Linked DNA regions of Homo sapiens: region 2 is linked to region 1. Evidence: fine-mapped expression QTL. Tissue or cell type: B cells. Region 1 holds a variant in brackets; the other region holds the start of a gene. All regions are shown on one strand. Distances are from middle to middle.

What was found. PIP is the estimated chance that this variant, and not a neighbour inherited with it, causes the effect.
Region 2: it holds the start of MTMR1, and the variant in region 1 is fine-mapped to the expression of MTMR1 in B cells (Fairfax 2012, PIP 0.95).

Annotation. Positions count from the first base shown.
Region 1 is chrX:151,129,974-151,138,082 of GRCh38, reverse strand. No RefSeq gene overlaps it. Among named protein-coding and RNA genes, the nearest start is that of MIR4330, 34 kb to the left of the region's middle. The variant A/C (reference allele first, on the strand shown) is at 4,812.
Region 2 is chrX:150,689,406-150,697,514 of GRCh38, reverse strand. MTMR1 (myotubularin related protein 1) reads right to left here and starts at 4,119. Exons shown (of 16, transcript NM_001306144.3): 1 at 3,839-4,119. The coding sequence starts at 3,984. RefSeq lists enhancers at 2,576-2,655, 2,676-2,775 and silencers at 3,669-3,808, 4,119-4,188.

The DNA of each region.
Region 1 (8,109 bases):
CTTAAAGCCTGAAACTTGCATTTGTCTTATCTGAGTTTCTTCCTGAGGAAACCAACCCTCGGGCCTCCCAGATAGTTCAAGGAATTTAAACTCACCAGATCACCACATCCAAACAATGGGATGCCAGACCCCTCATCCATCATGATGCCTGTTTACCAACTCCTCTTCTTTATCCCTCTGTAATTCCTGTTTTCTGGCATGTAGTTACATTTCTTCCTGCTATATAAACCCCTAACTTTAGTCAGTCAGACAGATGGATTTGAGACTGATCTCCCATCTCCTTGGCTGCTGCACCCGACTACAGCCTTCTTCCCTGGCAAAATTCATCATCCTGGTGATTGGCTGTCTGTGTGGCCAGCAGCAGGACCTAGTCCAAACCCCTGGCATTTCAGTAACAGACTTTGATTCCCTAACTGGGAATGCATTGCTCATGGCTTAGTTGCTGTGGGCCAGGAGTTTCAGAAGCCCTCCTAAGCAGCTGCCCATCCCTTTTTTAGCCGGAGGTAACTTTCAGTTTCTCTCTGGCTCCGCAGCTGCCAGCACTAATACTAGACAGCAGGATCTGCTCCTCTCATTTTGGGAAACTCTGAAGGAATTTCTGTGTGCAGGTTGAACAAGCCCAACTGACTGAGAGAGGAAGCACCCCTACTGTTTTAGTTTGGGCCCTCTTGGGGCTTGTTGGTTGGTACAGCAGTTGGATTGTGTTTTGGTGATGGTGTGTGTGTGTGTGTGTGTGTGTGTGTCAGTATAGTCACAGGAAATCAGAATTTGATAAACAAATCATCTTTTATAATACTGTTTGGCCCCACTATTCTTTGGAGTCTGGAACAGCTTCACCTCTCCATGGGTCTCATTTTGTTGTTGAATGAGAAAGCAGGATAGAATTTCATGTATTCAGGCTTTTATGCTGTTGTTCTAAGCAGAATCAGGCCTGGTTAATACGTGATGTTCTTCTGTGGTACTGTTTGGCCCTGGAGTTCTTTGGAGTCTAAAGACGTTTGGCCTTTAAAAATCAAAATGCCATGGAAACTGCTTTACTCCAAATTTTGGTTCACAACCATAACTGGATTACCTACCAGGGCAAACAAAATTTAGCAATGTGAAAATGTTCATAAACTAGTGAGCTTGTATTGCTATCTTATGGCTAGAGTTCCAAGGTAAAAGCCATTGGAACTTTGTGCATGTATATACATGTCTAGATGTGTTTATTTGTATGTACATTTATTAGGTTATATGTTGTGTCTTCCAAATTGGCTTATAATTGAGAGTGCTTAAATTAAAGGAGCACATAAGTTAAATAAATATGTCCTAGCATTTTTCAAGTTCACATGACTTGAATATATCTTCTTTAATAAACAAGCTGGCTTTAAAATTATTGGTAAAATAAAAATAGAAATGTCTTTAAAATTGTCAGCATACATTTTTGTCTGGATTTTACATTTGTCCATGCTAGATACTTTGAGGTGTCAGGATTTGGCACGAAAGGTTATAAAACTATAAATCTAGCCAAAACCAAAATGATCTCTGTTTGTGTGACTTTTGACAAATAAGACCAATTTAATGTTGTTGGTTTCACAGCTGAATCTTCTGAATTATTGGTAAAAATACCCATGTATTTAACTTAAAGATTCTTACTTAGGTGCACACCTACTATGCACAGGTTATAAAAATGAAATGACGACTAGCTTTGTCTAATATCTCAGTTCTCATAAGTTATGTAGATAAACTGCTAAAAACGAATGAAATGTAAATGGGATAAATGCTGTATGTGAACATTTTGTGTAACTTAAAATCTTAAGATCATTTTGGATGCTCATTGGATGCCTGGGTCACTTTCAATTGTGAAAGCATTCTGACATGGGGAAACAATTTTTTAAAGTGTGGAATGGTTCTCATCTAGAAAATGCTAACATTTGATAGTTCAGGATTTTCTGCTTCCTTGGTTTTCACTAAAATTTATGGTTACTAAGAATAAGAAGTATAGTTAATAGATAATTCTGTATATAAAATGTGCTAAAGAAGATGTGTTCCTGTTAAGAAAAAGAATAATTATGTTTAATTCGGAAGTTGTCTGAAGGTTTATTCAAATTATGGACTTGAAAAGGTTATTTATGAAACAAGGTAGAAAGAAACCAATAAGTAGGGGAGAGAGATTTGAAGAAAGTTGTGGATATGAAGATGTATTTTTAATAAGGAAGTTTATAAAGAAAGAATAATTTCATATGAGAAAGAACCTTGTAAAATAAATTTTTGTCCTGAGTAAAATGGTTAGTTATTTTAAAAAGAAAAAAATTAGGACAAAATAGAATGTCCAAGCATGTCATGGATGGTCTGTGTAAATCATATACAGTTGTGTTTTTTTTTTTCTGGTTCTCTGTGTGTCTATCTTCATGCACATACAAAGAAAATAGAAAGTTTAAAAAGTTTAGATAATAAAATATTTGTTAAAACCTAATAAAAAATGGAGAAATTTGGCTAACATTGCTCATAGTTAAAGCTCTTAATTTTGATTAAGGTAAAATAGGAAATATTGTAAAGAAATACATTGGCAGTTTGGCCATTCTTTTTCAATGTAGTTAAGCATGAAGCCAGATTTAACATGGAGCCAAATTTCACATAAATGTTTGCATTCCTTTACTTCACAATGTATTTGCTATGCTGCATAGACAGTACTAACACTAAGTACTTACTAGTCATGTGCCTAAAGTGAATTTCTTAATTGCATAAAATCTATACTGGTATTGGTGGACTTAAAGACATTAATTTGTATACCAGGAACAAAATATCCCTCATGTGTTTTTTTTAGGCTCTGGGTAATGCTGGAGCCTTTAAGGTGAACTGAGTAGGAGAAAACCTGGGGGTTGTTTTCTTGTTTGTTTTTGCTTTTCATTTTAATTTTGCTATTTGTTCTCCTTTGGGTTTTACTTATATATACATATATACATACCTACACATATGTATGTATATATACATACCTACACATATGTATGTATATATACATACCTACACATATGTATGTATATATACATACCTACACATATGTATGTATATATACATACCTACACATATGTATGTATATATACATACCTACATGCTTAGACATTCTATTTTGTTGTAATTTTTTTTCTTTTTAAAATAAGTAACCATTTTACTTAGGACAAAAATTTATCATACAAGATATACATATGTATATGTATGTATATGTGTATATATATGTGTGTGTGTGTGTGTGTGTGTATATATATATATATATATATATATATGCTGTCTAGTTTCTAATAGAGAACTTTCATTTGGTTCTATGAATAGTCTTGTGTTTCCTGTGCATTTCCAAAAATATATCATTTGCTCTATTTATCTGAAATTACTAAGCTACTTTATTAAGCCTCTAAAAATTGATAGAACGCACTGTTCACTTAAACTTTGATTGATTTTGCTCACCTCTCATGATCTAGAGAGGTATAAGAGCTTTAAGGTTCCTGGCAAAAAAAATCAAATAAAAGATTTATTTTTGTAAGTTCTGAACAGAAATAGTACATTGGTTTGTTATTTGGAAATGTAGTTGAAAGTGTTTAAATGGTGTTTATCTCCAAGTTAATTCAATTCAATTAATAATTTGGGTTGGTTTCAGATCTTTTCCTTCAGGTATTGAGGAAAAATCGTGATATGTGTACAAAGTTTTAATGTTCATGAAAGATTGGCCTTGTCCTTAAGGAAATTACATTCACTGCTATTTCTCTCAGACTACTTTAGTTGCATTTACCATTATTAAAATTAAATGACATTCACTTGGATTAAGCAGTAATAATAAAAATGTGAGGCTTTCTAGTGATATTTGGTCCCAAGACTTTTATCACTGTCAGGCCCTCATATGTGTGCCTGAAAACAAAATATGTACAAGTGTTGCAGTGGTTTGAAGATTCCAGTGGTGAAAGTTACTGAATCAGTTGTCAGTACTGTATCTAGAAACCAATCATGGAAATGTGTGATGATACTCTTTTAAAATAGCTGAAAAGAAATTATTCTGTACCTGTTCTTACTCTGTCCCTGTTTTGTTGGATAATATTTGAGTGAAAGGAACTTATTTATCCTCACACTGAATTCCAAAACTGATATTTGCATTTACCATTTTTTAAATGATGGAGAGAAAAGTTAATTGTCTTACTTAGATATGTTTGCCATAGGACCTATAACATTTCTGATGCTTTAGGTCACAGTTCCATCACTAAAATGCTACCAATTAGATATGTGCAAGGAGTAACCTAATCACTTTATTTTTTGGTAATTTTATACTTTTTTTTGAGACAGAGTCTCACTCTGTTGCCCAGGATGGAGTGCAGTGGCATGATCTTGGCTCACTACAACCTCTGCCTCCCAGGTTCAAGTGATGCTGCCTCAGCCTCCCAAGTAGCTGGGATTACAGACATAAACCACCACACATGGCTAATTTTTGTATTTTTAGTAGAGACGGGGTTTTGCCATGTTGGCCAGGCTGGTCTCAAACTCCTGACCTCAAGTGATCCACCCACCTTGGCCTCCCAAAGTGCTGGGATTACAGGCATGAGCCACTTGTGCCCGGCCAATATAATGTTTTTAATAATCTTGTGCATGAAACAAGGTTTGTGTATATAGAACCATCAGAAAGCAAAGGTGTCACTATCTCAGCCATCCATGTGGATAATCTGTGGTTGTTTGGCATCCATTATTCCTAACTCTGAATTTATATGCTACGAATAAGCAATCACTTTCTTACACTTGTTTACACACAAGTACTTAACAGTAAAAAATATGACATATCATTCATACAGTGA[A/C]AACATAATGTGTTCAAGTAACTAAGCAGCACAGTAGCACCACCAGAATTCCTGTGTCAGCTGTTCAACAACAGCAACAACATACAATACCACATTTTCAATCTCCACGTATGATGCTGTGTTTCCATTAAAATGGGTACTGTACACTGTATTTTATTTTTTAGGTGAGAAGAAATACCACAAGCAGTGGAGAAACCAGGAAGTAGGCCCTTTAGGGATGAGGAGGCATTCTGCTAGATGACTTTTTAAAGTGTTTCCTCCAGAGTAATTTGTCTCATTAACAACAGTTTTTCTCTTCTTGATTTTATAAACTGACATGATTTCTTATTTCTTATTTGTTATGAATGCATACTGCTCTAGTCCTCCAATAAGCCCATCATACATTTTCACCATATCATCTAAAGGCACTTTTTCTGCAGTGTTAATAATGTCATCTTCATCATTGCTATGATCATATCACCTTTATTCAGGATCATGTTGACTCTTCCACCACTGGTTAATGAATGAAAAACTGGATTGTTCATCATTACTGAGCATAATCACAGGCCAGAGGTTGTGCCAGGCATGCACGGCTGTGTCCTTAGTCACTGTTTTCCAAGCATTAGTAACAGTATATATGGTATCATTTATGCCCAACTCCTTTTAAAAACCTTCCACACCCATACCTTTCTTCATTGCTACTAGCATGCTGTTCGATAAAGTTTTTTTTTTAAATATTTACTCTTCAGTGAGTTAAGGATACCCCAGTCACATGGCTGAGTTAATAGAGTCACATTTGGGGGAAATACATGGTATAAACATTATTTTTAATGAGAATTTCAGCTGAGGAACGAGCAAAACAATTGTCAAGGAATAACTAAATCTTGCAATGGTCACCCAGTCCAGCTTCCCTGAAGTGAGCACAAGCTGCTGGTACAAATTGTGAAACCAATCAGAAAAGGCATCGCTAGCGATCCATGCCTTATTGTTAGCATAATAATGGACTTAAAAGAAATTCACTCCTTGAAAACAACAAAAATGCAAGCTTTTGCCTACCACAGTAAGCTGACAGTTATGTGTGCCTGTGGCATTAGCACATTCTAGCACAGTTATTCTGTCCTTGGCATCTTTAACTCCTGCAGGGGCTGTCTCCTCCTCTGTAGTCAGTGTATTTCTGGGGCAGTGGTTTGAAGTGCTGCAGGCAGTAACTACTGGAGACCAAATCACAGTGTTTTAATTTGTGACATGTTAGAGAGAATAATAGGACTTTCTGCAGTATTAGTAAACTGAAGCACTAATTTCTAAATGTTCTTTTTTTATGTCTTTAAATGTTTCATTAAACATTGGCTTCTGTTTTTAGCATAAATGCATATATTATACTCGATCATTTATATTGTAGATAGAAACTTATTTTACAGCAAAGTAGTCTGTCTGCATATTATGGGTAGAGTGCCCCTTTATTGTAATTTTATTTCTATATTGCTTTTAAAGCCTTTTGATGATCACTTTTGGTTAAATGAATAACTGTTATTTTACAATGACCTGTGATTCTGTTTTAATAAAACGTTTCAAGTCTTTTAATTTCTTTGATAAGCATCCTATTAACTAATCCTTGTGCTGTTAAGTTACAGGGTCTTGACTCCTGGGTCTGAAAAAGGTGCCGATACCTGCTAAATCTTGAACATTGACACCAGTCAAAGCCTCATCTTTAGACCCAGGAGAAGGCAGCAATCAAAATGAACTGCTTTCATGAGACACAGGGCCAGGAATTAAAACTATCCAATCCATCTAGGCCCAGGAACTATTGCAGAAGGGGGGCAGGCACATGAGATTGTAAGGGCCAATTTTGACAAATAAAATTAGTTATGTATGTTCTTTTGTGGTGGTTGTATGTGTCCTTATGTAACCTTCAAAAGATCTCACTGTTCTAGGCCGATGCTGAACATACAACTCAGCTTGGCGGGCAGGGGTGCAGGGAACTGGGCTTCCATTCTTAAATGGCAAAGGAAATTCCTTTGATTCATAAGCAATTCTGTAACCTTACTTTTTGGCTTTTAGTTTTTGGCTATTATGTTGCTTAAAGGGTTTTAAGTGTTAATGAGTGCCTGCCCCCCTCCATTCTTGTCTGGTCTACAGTGTTTAATTGGCTGTTAGTCTTTTGACTCTATGTCCCTTGGCTATAGAGGTCCCACTGAGGGATGAGATGGACCTAAAACATGTAGCCACACCACCTTGGCAACACTATGGGACAAAATAAATTCCTAAGCCCCCCATTGACTGAGTAGGCCCACTTGTGGCCAAGGGGACCCCAGTTGCCAAGAGATAAATCTTAACTGGGAAAAGGTCTTGTCCCTTGCCCTGCTGAGGATGTGGGTAGCCCCTAAAAGTGGATTGGCTTTTAGAGCCTCCAAAATGTATGGAAGACCATTTCTCTAACCTCCAGACTCCTTGACACTTTAGTATTTTTCCTCCTCTGACACAGAAGCTAGGTCATATATAAAACAATTAGGAAATATATTAACTAGTCTCTAAGTTTGCTTCCAACAGGCTTCAGTTCCCTAGAGATGTACCTCTCCACTTTTTGAAACTGGGAGATCCCAAGTCCTGCTGAAGACCTGGAAATCCCACCAAGCTGTAGATGAGCTGCAACCACAATGGGTCAGCCCTTTGGAGGTGCTGCTGATCACTCACTCATCTGTCAAGTTAGCTGGTGCTAAGTCGTGGATTCACTATACTCGGGTAAAACCAGTCCCTCTGGAATCTCTCCCAGGGAATCAGTCATGGTCTTGTGAACCCTCAGATGGCCTTAATATCTAAAGTCCAGTGAAAGACCCTAGTTAAAAAATCATAAAGGGAACATGTAGCTTTCGCGATTATTTTATTGGATTCCCCAAGGGATCCACTCCATATCCTTTGGTGTTTTAAAATTTAGGTTATCCATGTTATTAATCATCCTAGTCAATGTGACTTAAAATGTTGTTCTAAAACCATTAAAGTATCCAGGTCCTGGTGTTCCAACAAGTCAGATGCTGACCAGGTACTTATGAATACTTCCAATTACAGGGGTAACATTTTCATTCCTCATCAGTATCATATAATGCCCTTCCTCAGCATAAAGCAGTCAGAAAGATCAACCACCAGATTCCCCATGATTGAGGAACTGATAAGTAGAAATAGAGGACTGAAACCGGCCAATTGTCTCACAGAACTGGTGTTTACCGTCTTTTGGATAAACATAGAAATTTGAAATTGACCCTCTTGGTCTTAAAGCTTGAAATCTGCATTTGTCTTATCTGAGTTCCCTCCTCAGGAAACCAAC
Region 2 (8,109 bases), 440 kb after region 1:
AACACCGACAAAAGTTTACCTTGCAGGTAGCTTTCACTGTAAAGAATGTTTCAGGCCTTTAAAAAAAAAATCATATCACTAATTAAACCCACACTCACATATCTGAAGGACAGAAACACCTGGAATCCCCAGGCAATATGGAAAATGACCCAAATAGTAAAAGAAAGAAAACTGAAGTTCTGTGCTAGTGATCCAAATTGCAGTCTCTGATCAAAACAGACCAGAGGTTATCTGTATGGTTGAAAATACTGAATGAGCAGAAATTCCTATCACATGCCAGGAATCTATATACCACAATTTCGACCTGAGGGGGAGAAGGAGAGAAAAGGGAGAGATTTGTTTCCTTTTTAAAGGTTAAGTCACTTTCATTCCCACGTATATCATACTTTTCTTGTCATAATGCCTTTTTCTGTCAGCACCCACCAGTTGCAAATACAGGAAGAAACTGCAGAAACCCAACTGCTGAGCATGAGTGTGACCTGCTATTACCACCTGCCTGCCCGGCATGCCTTCCCCCTTCTTCTGATAAAGACCTTCCTCTTTACTTTGGGAACTGCCCTTCCCCACAACACAGGCTTCTGTGGGGGAAAGCGGAGAAGAAGGTTGACCCCTTCCTCCACCTGCTCCCACTTGTAGGTGAGTTACCTAGGACCAGCCAATCCCAGACTTTTCCCCTTGGATCCTGAAATACATGGATCTGTATCCAGAGCTGCTGGAGGCCACTCCCCACCCCACCCCACCCCTACCATCTTAAGGAACTCACAGCGATTAAAAAGTGAGGGAAAATAAAAGAGAGAGGGAGAGAGAGATGGGGAGTCCCGACAACACTGTTTGCAATCCTGACCTCAACTGTGCCTGTGGCCATCTCTCCTCCTGTCTGGAGCAGTTCTGTGAGCCAGGGCATCTCATTTGCCTTAAGCTAGATTGAACTGTGGTTTCTGTCACCTGCAACCAGAAGCATCCTGGCCAATGTAGTTACACACAGTGAAGCACAGTGGGTTAGCAGACAGGAGGCCTGGACATGAGTCCTGCTTCTGTCACCAGCTAACTCCATGATCTTTGGCAAGACACATCCTCTTACAGGACCACAGCTTCCTCATTATTAATTACAGTATTCAGAAGAGAAGTGAAGGCCCCATAGTCCCAGGGACATGGCCAAGTCCCACCCATAGAGCCAGGTTCCATTCTAGAGGTCACTCTTCAAAGAAAAGTGTGAATCTGAGCTTGTTGAGCTGACAGAACTGAGAAAGGAGGCCATGATTCCTCCCCCATCCCTTCTCTGTAGTCTGTGCAATTGCCCTCTATACTCCTGGTGTCAATAACTACTTACAGGCTGGAGGCTCCCAGCTCTGTTTCTCCAACCTGGACTCTCCTGATCTCAATGCTGATGTTCCTACAAGACCTGTCCACTAGTCTGGCCCAGAGACCCTGCCAATTCAACCTGTCTAAACCAGCATCAGCCGCTCAGCCCCGCAACCTACTCTGCTCCTGTGTTTCCTAACTCAGGGCGCAGCACAGCCAGTTATCCGGCCCCCACACGCTAGAAAGCTGAGGTTTGCCTTGGAGTCCACCCGGCACTCCCCCCTCACATCTGAATGCTCACCATGTCGGGTCACTCTTACCTGGTAAGCATCTTGAAAATCCACCCAGCCCTATTCCTAGCCCAATTCCCTTTTCCAGACCTCCATCATTCTTCTGTGAACTCCACCTGCCTCATGAATTTAAGCCTCATCTATAAGCCCATGACTCCCCAGTTTGAATCTCCAGCCCAGACAACCCTGAACTCCAGGCTCAGATAGATCAACTATATCTTTGACATCTATTCTGGGACATATAATTGGCATCTCAAAATTGATATGTCCAGAGCGAAGAGCCTGCTATTTTCTAACCCTGCTCCACCTTAGAAAGACTTCTCCATCTCAGCAACACAATTTTCCCACAAGCTAAAATTTTGGAATTCTCCCAGATTCTTCTCTCATACCAACCAACCAATCTTCAGCAAACCCCATTGGCTCTACCCTGCAGGTCTTCAAATTACATGTAGTATCTGACCACTTCTCCCCTCCTCCGCTCCACTCTGGACCACCATCTCACTTGGCTTACTACAATAGCCTCCTACTGACAGTCTCTGCTTCAGCTCCTTCCCCTTTCACTCTATTGTCCACATAGCACCATGGAGAGCCTACTGAAATCTACAACAGATGATGTCACTCCTCTGCACAAAGTCCCCAGTGGCTCCCCATGGCCTCTGAGGCTCTCCACCATCTGGCTCTGTGACTTCTCTAACGTCATCCCTTACTTGTCTCTCCCTAGCTCCCTCCCTGCTAGTGACACCTAGTCTCCTCGCTGATCTAGGAACACTTGGCTCACATTCACCTCAGGGGCTTTGCACAGGCCTCTGACTAGAATACTATCACCCCCAGGTATCTGTATGGCTGGATCCCTCGCCTCTTTGGGGGCATTACTCAAATGTCAGCTTTCTCAGGCTTTCCCTGATCATCAAAATCTCTGAAGGAAACCAGAAGATGAGGCATATTTGGGGGTGACACATTCTGGTCTCCTTTGGCTTCTTAAATGATTCTGATGCATGCCCATCCTGAGTACTTCTGTGTTCGCCTCTACCACCTATCTCATTTATCACATTCGATTTCCACTGTTGGTTGGTTTGTATTCTCCACTAGATGGTAAGTCTAGCAAAATGGTAAGGCAGCAAAAGCCGTGTTGTGCTATTCTCTGAATCGCCCAGACCTCGTGTGTGGTTGAATATTTGCAGATGAGTGAAGTCCTCACCATTTCAAGTGCTGTCTTAGCTGTGACTGGTTTTCAGTGACACTAACCACTTGGGTGATTAATTTATTAAAATATATTGTAATTACACTGAGGTAGAAACAAAAGTGAAGGGAATGTTTCTTGTTTCTGTGCTTTTGGAAACTCCCAAAAGTTTGGCACAATGGGATGACCAAGACAGGCAGGAATGGGCATGTAAAACTGACTGAGCTACATTCCAACAGTGCATGCTGCCTGAGTGCACTCTGGTGTCAGGGAAATGGCCAAGTTGTGGGAAAACTGGATGTTCCGGGTTACACGATAGGCCATCTCTTGTCGTCGGAGGAGGCGGTGGCCCCTCCCAGTTCGACACGGTCACTTTATGTTTCTAACTGATTTCTCTTAGTTCTGCAGCTGCCTCAGAAGCAGTAGGCTTGCTTGTGTGTTCATGAAAACAATAAACTGGTTCCCTCAAAGTGTGAAGAACTGAAAGTAAATGGTTCTGTTTTCTTGCCTCCTGAGCAGTTTGGACGTTTTCCATCTCAGATTTTTGCCTCGATCTGCACCAGCTCCCACGCCCGCGGGGTCCCATCTCCCCGTCCTCACTCCCAACCCCCCATCAAAGACCCTAAGCAGCCACAGCAGAATTGGGGTCTTAAAACCACACGAGGCAAGGTGATGCTAGAAGAGGAGAGCCCGGGTGGGATCTCCCTCCCAAGAGGATTGGTGGCCTGGGCAGGGACAGCCAAGCGATCGCCAAGGGCAGCAGGTGGCGGCGCCGGAAGTGGTTTGACAGCTGCGAAGCCCCTCCCGGGGTTCCAGGAGCTGGGGCTCTCGGGGCGGAAGTGAGCCAGGTGCGCGGCCCGCAGCAGGTCCGAGGGCAGCAGTCCCCGGATGGGGCGCTGAGGTTTCCGGGGGTGGGGGGGAGGAGGGCCCAGAGGGGATGAAGAGGGGCCGCCCACCCCGCCACCGCCAGGCCCTGCGCAGCGCGCGGGGAGGGGGCGGGCTGGCCTCGCGCGGGGCCCTCGGGAGTCGGGGCGCGGGAGGCCGGGGCAGCCCGGGCCCCGCTTACCTGTCCAGGGTCTCCACGCTGGGCTGCCGGGAGCCGGCGGTGGCGCCCCCCGCGGCCCGAGGAGGCCTCCTGCCGCCCGCCGGCCCCGGGTTCGGGCCCCCGCCGCCCTCGCAGCCCGCCGCCGCCGCCGCCGCCGGCCTGTCCATGGCGCGCCGAGTCCTGCCGCCTTGGGGAAGCCGCCGTCGGGACGGGAGCGGCGGCCGGGAAGGTTTCGCTGCTTGCCTCCTGCCGCCCGCTCTATACCGCCCGCCCGCCTCAGGCGGCCGCCGCCATTAGCTGTCACCTGGCGGCCCCGCGTTACCCACAAGGCCGCGCGCGCGGGGGTCGGGGGGCGGGAGCGGGGGCGGGGAGGGCGGCGCGCGGGGCCGGCGCCGGGAACCCCCACCTCGCCCAGCCCCACCTGGGCGCTCGCCCACGGAGCCTTACAGCGGGGATCTGGGACCTCCTGCTCCAGCGACCTGGGTGCGTACAGAGCCACTGGGGTTCGGAATCCCCAAACGGATTATGCGTAGCGTGCTTCACTCTATAGTCACACCGGGTTGACTGCAGAGACGTGGGGTGTAAAAAGAAGTTTGAAGACATTCAAGTATCAAAAATGATTTCCCACCTCAGTTGTCCTTCCCGGAAAAGGTATAGAACAGCTCAAGCTCCCTCGGTCTTGACATCTTGAAGCAGGAGCAATTCCGTGCATTTTAGCAATTCCTCCCCACCCCATTCTTCCCTCCACTCTCCCCCTCCATACGCACCCCGCCGCCCCGCCACAAACCCACCCCCTTGCCATCTGTAGGGCAACCAAGTGTTCTGATGCCGCCCTCGGAGCTTCCGCCCATGGTTTATGTTAAGAGTAACATTTAACTTCTGTTGATTAAAAAATCACTGCTATGAACATCAAGCCAATATCTTGGTGAGGCATTTAGGACATTTGCTTTCTGGGCTAGATTTATTTCCTTGCTCATTTTGTTTGGGTTCGAATATCCAACAGCTCATCCCCTCTCACCTCACCCCTGATTAAGTTGGGAGTGGGTGTGTGGCTCGTGATTAAGCCTCTTTGCCTGTGATTGCTCTGGGTGTAGACAGGAGGCCTGCGACCCAGGTCTGGAAAAGAAGATATAAAGGGAACAATTTGCTCACTGTTAAAAGGCAGATCTGCAGACAGGGAGTTACTCATGCCCATCCCAGACCCATCCTGCCCCACCAGCTTAATAACTTCAAACTGAACTTTGAGGATATGATGCCTGAAGCCCCGACAGCCATCTTACGCACAAGAGGAGGTGAGCCTGGGGTAAGAAGATGACAGAGTGAGGAGGGCTAGGAGGAAGGAAAGGAAGATCCCCAGACAATAATAGCTCCTATCTCACACTGGAGAATCACCGACTGCAGGTTGCTGGCTTTCTAAAATTATTAAATCAAATGGTTAACCCACTGTTATGGACTGAATGTTTTCATCCCCCTGAAGTCCATATGTTGAAGCCCTAATTCCCTGTGTGATGGTATTTGGAGATGGGGTCTTTGAGAGGCAATTAGGTCATGAGGGCCAAGCTCTAGTCTGATGGAACTGGTGCTTTTTAAGAAGGGTCACCAGAGAGCTTGATCTCATGCACTCACATGCACACACTGAGAAAAGGCCGTGTGAGTACACAGCAAGAAGGTGGCCATCTGCAAGCCAGGAACAGAGCCCTTACTAGGTCCCTGCTGGACACTTAATCTTGGACTTTCCAGCCTCCAGAGTTGTGAGAAAATTTCTGTTGTTTAAGCCACCCAGTCTATGGTATTTTGTTTTGGCAGCCTAAGCACACTAAGACACCCACTTTTAGTTGGGTATTTTGTTACAAGTAGCTGCAAGCATCTTAGCTGTGCTGAGAATTGTCAGAAAGAAAACAGTGCAACTTTAAGCATATTTTAAGTACCATATTCTTTAAGAAACATTAGGCCAAAGAGGAATTCACTGTGACACTGTCATACTTCCAATTCAGTTAAGTACACTTAGGATTTAGAGGACAGAGATGAATCTGACATATCCCTGCCTAAGATGTTCACAATCCAGTGAAGGGGACAGACAAATTAACAATGACATTACAAGTTGGCAAGTGCTATAATGGGGACAATTGCACAGGATGTGGAACACCTACCCCAATCCATAGGAGAAGAGGAGGTCAGGAAAACTTCCCCAAAAAGGTGACATAAAACTGAATCTTTAAAGATGAGTAAATCCTTGATGAGGCAAAGGAGTCAAGTTATTCCAGGCAGAAGGCACAGTTATGGGCAAAGGTGTGGATTAGTAGGTATATTAATCTGTTTTGCTTTGCTGTAAAGGAATACCAGAGACCTGGTAATTTATAAAGAAAAGAAGTTTATTTTGGCTCACAGTTCTGCAGACCGTACAAGAAGCATTGTGCTGGCATCTGCTTCTGGTAAGGGCCTCAGCAAGCTTACAATCATGGTGGAAGGCGAAGAGGAAACAGGCATGTCAAATGGTGAGAGAAGGAGCAAGTGAAAGGTGAGGGAGGCACCAGACTCTTTCAAACGACCAGCTCTTGCATGAACTCATAGAACGAGGATTCACTCATTACCACGGGGAGGGCACAAAGCCTTTCCTGAGGGGTCCACCTTCAGGATGTTCACAATCCAGTTTGCAACCCAGACACCCCTTACTCAGCCCCAACTCCAACATTAGGGCTCACATTTCAACATGAGATTTGGACGGCACAAACATCCAAACTCTATCTGTAGGTTAAATAGCTTATTATGTGCAAGAGAATGCCAAGAAATCGAGTGTTACTGGAGCATAAAGTCAGACAAGATAAGTGAGGATCTGGACTGGTGGTAGGCCAAGAAGTTTGGGCTTTGTTCTGCAGCTCACCAGATCTCAAATGTTAGTGTGCAAGAATCAGCCCCAGTCTGCATTTTCAGCAAATGCTCCCATGATTCTGATGCGGGGCTTGCTGCACTTGGAGAAATACTATTGTATAGTCCCCCATCTACGTCCATTTGATAGATTGTGCTTCCAAAGACTGCTGCAATAATATCCCCCATCCCACACACTCTTTTGCAAGGTGATCTTACCACTCATACATCAAGAGGTGGATTCTGTTTACCTTCTCCTTGAATGTGGACTGGCCCTGTAACCCCTTTGACCAATAGAATGTAGCAGAGGTGATGCTGTATAATTTCCAAGGCTAACCCTTAAGGGATTTGCAACTTCCAGTTTGCTTTCTGTGCATACTCCTTCTTGGAAGTCAGCTGCCATACTCTGAGGAAGCCCAAGCAGCCACAGGGAGAGGCCCATATGGAAGAGAACCAAAGCTCTCAGCCAATAGCCCTAGCTGAGTTCCCCAGGCAGCATGGCCAGAAGCCAGCACTAACTGCCAGCTATGTGAGTGAGGCCATTTCAAGCCTTTCAGTCATTCTGGTGGCCTAGCCAACACCACATGAAGCTGATGAATCATACAATTGACTCACAGATTTTTGAAAACTAATGAATTATGGTTTTAAGCCACTAGGTTTTGGGGTGATTTTTTGTGCAGCAATAGAGCACCCAAGCATTGCTCTTGATGAATGATCCAGAGAAGTAATCCCCTACCTGCTCAGCTCCCTTCCCCATTCAGCTATAGGAATCCATGCACAAATCACAGCCACACTCCAAGGAGGGTACTCCACAGTAGTAGGTCAGAAGCTGTTATAATCTAAGATTTTACCCTACTAGCAAGCTGAAAATTTAGTTGATCACCACACTCTAACACTCTGAGAGAAAATATAAAGCCTCTGGATCCGAAACAAAGACAGTTTATTATTCACAGCAAAATCAGCAGCCACAGCAATATCTTGGATCTGCATCCTGAACCCCAGTCTCTACAGGGTGGCATGCTGTTCTGCAGTGCAACCTTGCCACTCTTACATTAAGAGGTGGTATCGGCTGGGCGTGGTGGCTCACGCCTGTAATCCTAGCACTTTGGGAGGCCGAGGTGGGCAGATCACCTGAGGTCAGGAGTTCAAGACCAGCCTGGCCAACGTGGCGAAAGCCCATCTCTACTAAAAATACAAAAATTAGCCGGGCGTGGTGGCACATGCCTATAATCCCAGCTACTTGGGAGGCTGAGGTAGGAGAATCGCTTGAACCCAGGAGGCAGAGGTTGCAGTGAGCTGAGATCCTGCCACTGCACTCCAGCCTGGGCGACAGTGCGAGACTCCGTCTCAAACAAAACGAAACAAAACAAAACAAAAACAGGTGGTACCTATTTCCCCTCCTTTTGAATGGGGGCTGGCCTGTAACT